Linked DNA regions of Homo sapiens. The protein of the gene in region 3 purifies or fractionates together with the protein of the main gene of each other region. This does not show direct contact. Each region holds a gene or a part of one and is shown on either strand. Other genes may lie near its edges.

Evidence for each region. The genes of interacting proteins can lie anywhere in the genome.
Region 1: the proteins of EXOC2 (region 3) and SPTBN2 fractionate together in Homo sapiens (co-fractionation; one large-scale study listed by BioGRID). This does not show direct contact.
Region 2: the proteins of EXOC2 (region 3) and RUBCN purify together in Homo sapiens (affinity purification with western blotting, with the first as the bait; one study listed by BioGRID). This does not show direct contact.

What each region holds. Positions count from the first base shown.
Region 1 is NC_000011.10:66,701,717-66,705,216, reverse strand, and holds part of SPTBN2 (spectrin beta chain, non-erythrocytic 2), read left to right. Parts: coding exon 1-619; intron 620-3,495; coding exon 3,496-3,500. UniProt on the Homo sapiens protein: Probably plays an important role in neuronal membrane skeleton.
Region 2 is NC_000003.12:197,730,405-197,733,904, forward strand, and holds part of RUBCN (run domain Beclin-1-interacting and cysteine-rich domain-containing protein), read right to left. Parts: intron 1-3,500.
Region 3 is NC_000006.12:629,650-634,887, reverse strand, and holds part of EXOC2 (exocyst complex component 2), read left to right. Parts: intron 1-1,770; coding exon 1,771-1,947; intron 1,948-4,926; coding exon 4,927-5,053; intron 5,054-5,238. UniProt on the Homo sapiens protein: Component of the exocyst complex involved in the docking of exocytic vesicles with fusion sites on the plasma membrane.

The DNA of each region.
Region 1 (3,500 bases), on a different chromosome or scaffold from region 3:
GGGGCGAGATGAGCGGCCGGCTGGGGCCCCTGAAGCTCACCCTGGAGCAGGGCCAGCAGTTGGTGGCCGAGGGTCACCCTGGGGCAAGCCAGGCCTCTGCCCGTGCAGCTGAACTCCAAGCCCAGTGGGAGCGGCTAGAGGCCCTGGCCGAGGAGCGTGCCCAGCGGCTGGCCCAAGCCGCCAGCCTCTACCAGTTCCAGGCCGATGCAAACGACATGGAGGCCTGGTTGGTTGACGCACTGCGCCTGGTGTCCAGCCCCGAGCTGGGGCACGACGAGTTCTCCACGCAGGCTCTAGCCAGGCAGCATCGGGCCCTGGAGGAGGAGATTCGAAGCCACCGGCCAACCCTGGACGCCTTGAGGGAACAGGCAGCAGCCCTGCCCCCCACACTGAGCCGCACGCCCGAGGTGCAGAGCCGGGTGCCCACCCTGGAGCGGCACTACGAGGAGCTGCAGGCCCGGGCAGGCGAGCGAGCGCGGGCCTTGGAGGCAGCCCTGGCGCTCTACACCATGCTCAGCGAGGCCGGGGCCTGTGGACTCTGGGTGGAGGAGAAGGAGCAGTGGCTCAACGGGCTGGCCCTGCCTGAACGCCTGGAGGACCTGGAGGTCGTGCAGCAGAGGTAGGCCCCTCAGGCTCCTAGTGGGACCAGCCTTGGGAGGTGGGGGTGGGGGGGCCAGGATGTGGGTGGTGAGTCCCTCCATAAACTTCCTGCCTCACCCCTTTGAGTCTTAATGGTTGTCCATTTCTAGTTTTAACAAAAAATGTTAACCATACTCACAAGTAGAGACATTTCACCACAAACCCCTCTACACCCGTCACCCAGATTCAGTCATTGCCAACATCTTGCTCTATTTGGTTCTCTGCCCTTTTAAAAAGCAAATCCCCAAGATTAGCACATCCCTCCTACCTTCTTCAGGGTGTGCCCTTTAAGAAATACAAGGAAGCGGCCGGGCACGGTGGCTCACACCTGTAATCCCAGCACTTTGGGAGGCCGAGGCAGGCGGATCACGAGGTCAGGAGGTCGAGACCATCCTGGCTAACATGGTGAAACGCTGTCTCAACTAAAAATACAAAAAATTAGCCGGGCACAGTGGGGGGCGCCTGTAGTCCCAGCTACTCGGGAGGCTGAGGCAGGAGACTGGCATGAACCTGGGAGGCGGAGCTTGCAGTGAGCCGAGATCGTGCCACTGCTCTCCAGCCTTGGCGACAGAGCGAGACTGTCTCAAAAAAAAAAAAAAAAAAAAGAAAAGAAATACGAGGAAGCATTCTTACCTACAATATATTATTTTCAAATTGTCTGTGTGGACTTAAAATAGCTGAGGCTTTGAAGTTATAAACCTTTTAGACAGAGACACTAAAATAGTTTTATTTACAGAATAAATCTTCAAATCATTTATTCAATAATAAATCTTAAAAATTTTTTTATAGAACCACAATACCATTATCACATAGAACAAAATTAGGAATTTCTTTTTTTTTTGAGATGGAGTCTCACTCTGTCACCCAGGCTGGAGCGCAGTGGTGCGATCTCGGCTCACTGCATGCTCTGCCTCCCGGGTTCCAGCGATTCTCCTGCCTCAGCCTCCCAAGTAGCTGGGACTACAGGCACCCACCACCATGCCCAGCTAATTTTTTGTATTTTTTTATTAGTAGAGACAGGGTTTCACCATGTTAGCGAGGATGGTCTCGATCTCCTGACCTCGTGATCCACCCGGCTTGGCCTCCCAAAGTACTGGGATTACAGGCATGAGCCACTGCGCCGGGTCAGGAATTTCTTGATATGATCTATGATCAATGTGTAATCAAATTTCCTGGTGTTTAAAAAAATATAATTAGGTCAGGCCTGGTGGCTCACACCTGTAATCCCAGCACTTTGGGAGGCCAAGGCAGGAGTATCACTTGATTCCAAGAGTTCATAACCAGCCTGGGCAACATAGTGAGACTCCACCTCTACAAAATTTTTTTTTTAATTAGCCAGGCATGGTGGCAGGCGCCTGTAGTCCCAGCTACTGGGGAGGCTGAGGCAGGAGGATTGCTTGAGCCCAGAGGTCGAGGCTGCAGTGAGCTGAGATCGTGCCACTGCACTCCAACCTGGGTGACAGAGTAAGACCCTGTCTCAAAAAAATAAATAAAAATAAAAATGTAATTAAAGATTTTTTTTAGTTTTCAAGGTATCCTAATGTAGAGGTTAACAAACTGCAACCCTTGGGCCAAATCCAGCCTGCTGCCTGTTTCTGTAAATAAAGTTTTTTTTGGTTTTTTTTTTTTTTTTTTTTTTTGAGACGGAGTCTTGCTCTGTCCCCCAGGCTGGAGTGCAGTGGCACAATCTTGGCTCACTGCAAGCTCCGCCGCCCGGGTTCACGCCATTCTCCTGCCTCAGCCTCCCAAGTAGCTGGGACTACAGGCACCCGCCACCACACCTGGCTAATTTTTTGTATTTTTAGTAGAGACGAGGTTTCACCGTGTTAGCCAGGATGGTCTCGATCTCCTGACCTTGTGATCCACCCATCTCAGCCTCCCAAAGTGCTGGGATTACAGGCGTGAGCCACCATGCCCGGTCTGTAAATAAAGTTTTACTGGAACAGAGCTACACTCGCCCTTTTGCGTATTGCCCGTGGCTGCTTTCAGGCTACAGCAGCAGGGCTGAATAGTTGCCGCAGCAGCTGCATGGCTCACGAAGCCTATAATATTTACCATCAAGCCCTTCACAGAAAACATTTGCAGACCCTGCCCTATTAGAACATCAAATGTCGGCCAGGCGAGGTGGCTCACGCCTGTAATCCCAGCACTTTGGGAGGCCAAGGCGGGTGGAGCATGAGGTCAGGAGTTCAAGACCAGCCTGGCCAAGATAGTGAAACACCCGTCTCCACCAAAAATACAAAAATTAGCTAGGCTTGGTGGCGGGCACCTGTAATCCCAGCTATTCGGGAAGCGGAGGCAGAAAATTGCTTGAACCCGGGAGGCGGAGGTTGCAGTGAGTCGAGATTGCACCACTACACTCCAGCCTGGGTGACAGAGCGAGACTCCATCTCAAAAACAAAACATAAAATGTCCCTGGAAGAAGTTATCCTTCACATTTTCATCACTCAGACAAATATTTTTGGTTATTACTTCATTTTCTAACACATATTAGTGGGATGAGACCCAGATAGGCAGCTAAGGGGGAAGTCCCAGGAGGCTGAGCAGCTCTGATAAAGGGTTGGCCCCATGCCAGGGTCTAGTTTGACTTGTGTGTCTGTTCCTGACCTTTACCTTTCACCATCTTTTGAGCATTTCTAGCGATGACAGTTATTCTGCTTGTTTTGGGGGAGTTGTGGGTTCCTTCCTTGATGCACAGATACTATGAACCTCATAGGCTGAGAGGCAGAGAGACTCCTGCAGATAAGCCTCCTGGTGAAGGAGACACCCTCCTGGGTGTTTAAGAGAGGTGGACTTAGGTGGACTGGGCACATCGCTGCCTCCCACAATTCACGCCTGGCTCTTCCACCCTCTCAGGTTCG
Region 2 (3,500 bases), on a different chromosome or scaffold from region 3:
TCTTGTTGCTGGTATTGCTAAGCTTGGAGTTGCTATGGTAACCTGTAGAATAGTCTACCTGAGAATGAAAACAACACATCTGGAAGCAGAGCCCAGAGACAGAGACAAATTCTTAATTTGAACACCCATATTTGGGCATTTCTGAAGCAACAGTACACCCTAGATTTTTTTTTTTTTTTTTTGAGAGAGAAAGTGGGACCAGGGGGCCATCACGAGTGTGGATGCTGTGCCAAGGCCCGGAGCTCTGGGAGCCCACACCATTTATTGATGATCAAACAAAGAAACAGGTGGTGAGGATGTGGGGGTTGAAAGGAAACAGTGTATCAAGTGAATGAGAAACATATGGCTGCTTGAGATAATGGGAGTGCTAGAAGCAAGGAGCCAGCAAGTCTAGCAGACATGCAAGCCCTGCATCAGCTTCTCTCCCAACACTCAGCTTTTCTCATTAAAATATCTTTTTTTTTCATATTTTAAAAGCATCTTTTTTTTTTTTTTTTTTTTTTTTTTTTTTACAGTTTCAACTATTTATTCAACACCTTAGTGAACATCTGCTCAGTGCGGGCATTATTATGTGTTAACTAGAGGTTTTTTGTTTTTGTTTTTGTTTTTATTGATCATTCTTGGGTGTTTCTCGCAGAGGGGGATTTGGCAGGGTCACAGGACAATAGTGGAGGGAAGGTCAGCAGATAAACAAGTGAACAAAGGTCTCCGGTTTTCCTAGGCAGAGGACCCTGCGGCCTTCCGCAGTGTTTGTGTCCCTGGGTACTTGAGATTAGGGAGTGGTGATGACTCTTAAGGAGCATGCTGCCTTCAAGCATCTGTTTAACAAAGCACATCTTGCACCACCCTCAATCCATTCAACCCTGAGTGGATACAGCACATGTTTCAGAGAGCACAGGGTTGGGGGTAACGTCACCGATCAACAGGATCCCAAGGCAGAAGAATTTTTCTTAGTACAGAACAAAATGAAAAGTCTCCCATGTCTACCTCTTTCCACACAGACACGGCAACCATCCGATTTCTCAATCTTTTCCCCACCTTTCCCCCGTTTCTATTCTACAAAACCGCCATTGTCATCATGGCCCGTTCTCAATGAGCTGTTGGGTACACCTCCCAGACGGGGTGGTGGCTGGGCAGAGGGGCTCCTCACTTCCCAGTAGGCGCGACCGGGCAGAGGCGCCCCTCACCTCCCGGATGGGGCGGCTGGCCGGGCGGGGCCTGACCCCCCCACCTCCCTCCCGGACGGGGCGGCTGGCCGGGCAGAGGGGCTCCTCACTTCCCAGTAGGGGCAGCCGGGCAGAGGCGCCCCTCACTTCCCGGATGGGGCGACTGGCCGGGCGGGGGGCTGACCCCCCCACCTCCCTCCCGGATGGGGCGGCTGGCCGGGCGGGGGGCTGACCCCCCCACCTCCCTCCGGGACAGGGCGGCTGGCCGGGCAGAGTGGCTCCTCACTTCCCAGTCACCCTAGATTTTTTAGTACTATAAGCCATTATATTTGGAAATGGAGAGAAAAAGAAGGCTTCAAAAGAAAAATTAGGAACAGAATTTTAGACCCTGGTGACTGCTTACATATGGGAAATAGAGAAGAGCGAAATGTCAAATGTCACTCTGACGCTCTGGCATGTTGAGTGAGTGGAAAATGCTATTAACAGAGATCAGAGGAGGGGCAGGTTTTGGTCAGTGGAATAAGCTTAGTTTGGAGATGCTAAAACGGATCTTACTCCTTGAATTCTGACTGTACCTGGATCACGGTGCCAGGAGCACTGAGCAGTACATGTACCTGAGCTGCAAGCTCAGCAGTAGACTGCATGGCCAAGGCAGTCTAGGGAGACAGTACACTGCATGGCCAAGGCGGTCTAGGGAGACAGAGCAATGCCAGAAAGACCATTCCTTTAGCAGTTTACCAGTCTAGTAGTTTGGGTATTTTTGAGACGAGTCTCACTCTGTCTCCCAGGCTGGAGTGCAGTGGCGTGATCTCGGCTCACTGCAAGCTCCGCCTCCCGGGTTCACGCCATTCTCCTGCCTCAACCTCCCCAGTAGCTGGGACTACAGGCGCCTGCCACCACGCCTGGCTAATTTTTTGTATTTTTAGTAGAGACGGGGTTTCACTGTGTTAGCCAGGATGGTCTCGATCTCCTGACCTCGTGATCCACCCACCTTGGCCTCCCAAAGTGTTGGGATTACAGGCGTGAGCCACCGTGCCCAGTGTAGTGTAGTAGTTTTACCAGGCAACCTCAAAATAACTGGCATTTAGGAAACGGAGGGAAAGTGAAGTATCATCCCTAAGCCCCAGAGCATCTGGCTGGAGTGATAGCTAGACGGAAAACAATAGGGAAGCCCATCACCTAAGCACACTACCGGGGAAGTGGGAAGCTAAGCCAACACTCTAGGTCCCAATGTGTTCAACTCGGATGAAGGAGCCACTGAAAGAGGAAGAACAAGTGATACCCTTGCAAACAGTCACTTGTGGGGGAGACCCTCGCCTTATTTCAAAAAAACTAGCAAGGGGTGGATTCGACATTTTTCCTACTTCCTACGTATCAGGCTCTCAGGAGCTTTATGCACATTGTTTTATTGAATCCTCAGAACTTCTCAGGCAGGAAAGCATTATTCTTCCTACTCAGGCAGGTTACGTAAAGTAACTTGATCAAGTTAAGCCAAATTAATCCGTGAACTAGGATTCAAATGCAGGTCTGACTTTAAAGCTTATTCACGTTTCATTATATCAACTACTTAAGGAAAATACACTGAAAAGTTTCATCCTTCATTTTTAAAATGACACTACCGGCTGGGCACAGTGGCTCATGCTTGTAATCCCAGTGCTCTGGGAGGCCAAGGCAGCAAGATCCCTTGAGGCCAGGAGTTTGAGACTGGCCTAGGCAACATGGTGAGACTCTGTCACTACAAAAAATCTGAAAAAATTAAAAATTAGCTGGGAGTGGTGGCACACACCTGTAGTCCTAGCTACTGAGGAGGCTGAGGTGGGAAGATCACCTGAGCCCAGGAGTTTGAGGCTGCAGTGAGCTACGATTGCACTATTGTACTCCAGCCTGAGTGACACAGTGAGACCCTATCTTTAAAATATATAAATAAATAAATAAAAATGATGCTATCTCATCAAGAAGACTGTTTCTGAACTGGGTATTTCATTGGCCATAGAAAGGTTATGTTTGCAGTAACCCAGTCACAAAGCCTCAATTAATAGGCACAAGGAATGTGTATTTACCAGTTGTGTATCTGGAGCTAAGGAGGCCATCAGTACCATGAAGCCTCATTAAACAACGCATTCTGAATTAATCAGCCGCCAACACAGTATGCCTATAACAATGACGGGAGTGACTTTGTGAGGATAACCCCACTACTAAAATTAAGTTTTGATTAAAGTTTTTTGGTTAAGAGGCAATCATAAAAAGAATAAAAGACGGGAAAAGATTCTGCAAAGGAGCTATCCTACTGGCCTGAATGACAGGCACAGAATGCTGTGAAATTTATTCACTATC
Region 3 (5,238 bases):
AGTTTGGAGAGGCTTTCAATCTCTTAAGTTATTTAAGTTTTTCATAACAAAAATTATTAGAAAAAATATCAAAGACATGCCCATTTTGAAAAAAATAATTTTGAATAATGAATATATTTAAAAATGTGTTATTATAATTAAAATATACCAGTAGAAACCATAGTCCTGAGGAAACCTTTTAATGCCATTATTAGAAAAACAAAGTTGCAGACATTAGTGAATTATAGGTATTTTAGAGAAACCCCTAAAATTCATTATTTCAAGCAATGTATCTTTAAAGCATAGTTGCTTTTATTCCTTTATGGTTTAACATTCTTACTAAATAGTTCTTTAAGTTGGAACAAAAGATGATTTGACTTTGTGCCTCCATTTTAAAGTCAGATTTGGCATTAGGTGATATATTTCTGGTATCTGAAAAAAAGCCGAAAGAAAACATTGCCATTGCTAAACCTTAGTGCTGAACATTATAGAAAGTTAAATAATGAGAAAAAGTGTGAAGTGTCTGCCGGGCATGGTGGCTCACACCTGTAATCCTAGCACTTTGGGAGGCCAAGGCAGGTGGATCACTTGAGGCCAGGAGTTCGAGACCAGCCTGACCAGCATGACGAAACTGTGTCTCTAAAAAAAATACAAAAACAAAACAACAACAAAAAAACTAGCCGAGCGTGGTGGTGCTCACCGGTAGTCCCAGCTGCTTGGGAGGCTGAGGCTGGAGAATTGCTTGAGCGTGGGAGATGGAGGTTGCATTGAGCCAAGATCACGCCACTGCATTCCAGCCTGGGCAACAGAGCAAGACCCTGTCTCAAAAAAAAAAAAGAAAACGTCAAGTGTCTGTGTCTGTGCCACATACATTCTGGTTTCTTTTCTCCATAAATATTAATTACATTGGTCTCTGTTTTGTGGAAATGGAAAATCTAAAGGAAGTAAGTTGGAAGGCTAGCTGACCAGTGTGGTGCCATGCTGGTATTCCCCCTGAGGTGTGTGCCTTACTCACTGCATCTTTCAGTGCCTCTCTGTTTGGTTATTACCTAAATTTTGTTTTACATGGTATGAGGGAGGTGACATCATGAGTTGACCTTCTGGGAGTGTAGGTTTACTGTAAGAGCAGAATGTAGTGTAGTGACAGTTTCATTAGGAAAGCACTAGGGCAGGAGGAACTACTATGCCAGCAGCTGACACACCGATGTAAAAGTGAGATGGTAATCCAGTAATGCCTGAGCACACTTCACTAGATTACCTGACTCTTGGTTATGCTTAAATAAAAAACCTACTTTAGTTCATTCTGTAATGCCATGTATAAGTGAACACTAGAAAAAGCACGTGAAGATTTGTCTCAGGAAGATGGGTGAATGTAGAATGTTTTTAGAAAATGATACATACGTTTATTAATACACTTTAAAATTCTATGTTAATAACTGAGACTTCAAATAATAGCAGTAGTTTCCCTTTTATTACCTCTGAAAGCATTTTAAGATTCTCGTAATCTAAGTAATCTGGAATTCCTGCAACATAGTTGTTGTGGTGTTCGTTTTCTAATTCTACGGATGTTTGAAGAAACTCAAATGTAGCCTAAAAGAAGTCTTAAATATTGGAGAAAAAAACAGGTAAGAGGAAAAGTCAATAGAGATAACAGTATATCTGCAAATAATATTGGGTATATTCAATAATGTCATTATTGAACAAGACTAGATTTAAAAAATGTAATCTACACGATTAAGGTCTTATTGTTCTTGTCTTTGAATTTTGTTATGCACATGCGTTTATTTTCAGGCTTGACCATTTGTGGACATAATTGCCTCCTGACGGCAGAATGGATGTCTGCAAGTAAAATAGTATGTCGAGTGGGACAAGCCAAAAATGACAAAGGAGACATTATTGTCACCACTAAGTCAGGTGGCAGAGGAACCTCAACAGTCTCTTTCAAGCTACTCAAACCTGAGAAAATAGGTAAAGTCTTTCATGGGTTTATTCTAAAGAAGAAAGTAAAAATGAGTTTGTCTTTTAAGCTGTAAAGCTGGTAGATTCGTGTAAAACCTACCTACTTGCATATCTCAACTTAGATTTAGTTTATGTTTATTTTGACAGGATTGGGATGTTGGTTAATATTTGTGTTACTTTCGGGAAGGCAGTGTGCTGAGGTAACAGTCAGTGAAGCCTAAGGATGACGGTCGTATGAGAACTACTCTTCTCAGTTCTTAAAATCTGTTCGTTCACTTGATATACCAGTTTTGGTTCCTTGATCTTGAATATAATGACATTGCTTTAAACTCTTAAACAAGGTTTGAGGTGAAAAATCCTGATTTGGCCAAATTAGTAATAATATATCTAAATAATATTCCCTTTTCCTTCATTTTATCCATCCTTCAAGGCCCAGATGATACATTTCCTAGCTTGGCTGCTTTTAACGCCCCTGTTAGTAATACTCACTCTTCTTTGAACCACATAGCACTTTGTTTTCCTTCTTTATGCGCTGACCACTTGCTGCCTTCCGTTAGCAGTGTTAGGAACTTGCTGCCTTACGTTAGCAGCGTTAGGAACTTGGTCTGAGAAGTCATGCTCTTTGAATTCTAACCTGGACTCTCTTACCATGACTGAGTATGTAACTTTAATACCTTCTTTATCCATGAGCAAAAGTGGAATATATTGGCTACCTCATAGGATTGGGTGAGTTAGAACATAAATGTAAAGTGCTTAGCATAGTCCCTTACCCAGCAAATTAATAATTTCTGATGATCTTTCTTGTAGCTATTTCTGTGCATGTCTCTTTCCCTTTTTAGAATAAGAGTAATGTCAGATTCATCTTTGTGGTCCTGTAATGTCTTGCACCTGGTCAGCATTTGATAAATATTTGTATAATGTAGGAATATCAGAGGCGTAATTAAACCCAGCCAGTACTTCTCTTTATAAAGAAAATAAATAATTTTGCAAATTGTTTTTTTAATCTTAGAGCATAGAGGCTTTCTGCAGCATTGTTCTCCACAAATTCCTAGATTATTTTTATAAATAAAAATTCAAGGAATTTCAGGGAAAATTCAGAGTGGACTTTATATATGTACATGTACGTGCATGTGTACATATATACATATATAACATTTCTATTTTTGTTTACTCTTTTTATTTAGTGTCTTCAAAAACTAAACTGAAACTAAAGCAGGAACTTGTTGTACAGTTTTCTAGAGGGACTTAAACATTTTGATAAAAATCTAATATCTTATGATCTATTTATATAGCAGATAAAGAAAACTTAGGCAAAAGTGGTAATTTTATTATTCTGGAATACTCATTCCAGGACCTAGCACATAGTAGGCTTAGTAAAGGTTTCTTTTTTTTTTTCTTTTTGTTTTGAGACAGAGTCTTGCTCTGTCGCCCATGCTGGAGTGCAATGGCGCGATCTCAATCTTGGCTTACTGCAACCTCCGCCTCCCAGGTTCAAGCAATTCTCCTGCCTCAGCCTCTGCAGTAGCCGGGATTACAGGTGCGTGCCACCATGCCCAGCTAATTTTTGTATTTTTAGTAGAGATGGGGTTTCACCATGTTGGTCAGGCTGGTCTCGAACTCCGGACCTTGTGATTCGCCCACCTCGGCCTCCCAAAGTGCTGGGATTACAGGTGTGAGCTACTGCACCCGGCCAGTAAAGCTTTCTTGAACTGAACTCAAGAGTGCCTGGACTTGAGCAGAAGCCCCTGTTGCATGCTGGCAGAACCACGAGTGCTGAGAGAATGAGTGGGTTCATAGAGGGCCTTGCAGCTACAGGTTGCCTGGTATTCAGACAGCCTTCTCCCATGAAGCCTTCTGATCCTCGCCTGGGGAGGCAGGCACGCTTTGTCTGTGCTCCCTGGCACTTGGCTCTTTTTCTGTTGCAGCCCAGGGCCTTGGAGGCCTAGCTGGTAAGCCCTGTGCTAGGTTGAATGATAACGGAGTTCAGTCCCATAAAGGAAGATGCTGTTTTTAGAGCTTATGTTGTCTTGTTCACAGGGTCCACACCCAGTCAGTTTTCCCTGAATAACCTGGTTATTTCCATTATACAAGCCATGCGTTCCTTGAAAGGTGTTTGATTTAATCGTTAGATATTTTATTGAATTTACCAAATTGATTTCAGCCTAATACGGAAAAAAATCCCTGCTGTTTCTACCATCTAGGACATTTCCAGCACTGATAACAGCAAAAAGAATGAGAAATAGCAAGTAGCATATTATTTTTGCATAACTATTCATGAAAACATGCCAGAGTTTGTAGAGGAAAAGAAAATAAAAGATATTTCTTGAGAGCTTTCAAGAACCATTTAAAAAACATTTGGTTTTCATTTGTAGTGAAATGTCCTTAGGTAGCTTATGGAACCCAGAAGCAGAAACTCACAGTATTAAATATAAAATCATATATGCATAATGGTTTTTCGGCATTTATCATAAACCAGAAGCTTTCCACTGAGCTAACATTTTACTCGAATGTTTTGTGCTTGGATATTTCCCAGACATTTTCCAAGAGTTTACATGATTTCAGAATATTCTCTTGAATAAACAGATATTATAGGTCATATTATTTCATCTTACTGACTTTCTGAATTTTTTGTGCAGATTTAATCAGCTACATTTAACAATGTTTAATTGTAGTGTTTATTATTTGTAAAATATGTTTGTTATTGCAAAACTTTGTCTAAGCAGCTTAATTTGTCTTCTCTGTTGAGTAATGTACAATGAAACCATAAGCTGAGAGGTGTAATTTTTGCCTTTTTATAAATTTTTTTAGTGCTTATAATTAAACTACTAGTCATTTTTTAAAAATTTAGCTGTTATGTCCTCAAATCTCTTAAAGATTATCCAACAGGCATTTTGTATTAGGTCTTTAAGAAGTCAGACAATAGGCCAGACGTAGAAGGTGCCTGGGGTAGGCTTCATCTTATTAAGCATATGCTCCTCATTTCTGTAGGCATTTTGGATCAGTCTGCTGTGTGGGTTGATGAAATGAATTATTATGATATGCGCACTGACAGGAACAAAGGAATTCCGCCCTTGTCCTTACGTCCTGCTAACCCGCTTGGCATTGAGATTGAAAAGTGAGTACCATCTTGCTTTCAGTCTTCTTTATTTTTCAGTTCCTGAAAAGTTTTATATACTTACAGGAAAGGGACTCAAACTCCAGAAACATCCCAGGAAACACAGTTGAAGACACCTCAGTTGTTTGGAGATGGGTGTTATTTATGAAGCCTTGTTAGCTATGCTGCAAGTAAACTTTGCAGTT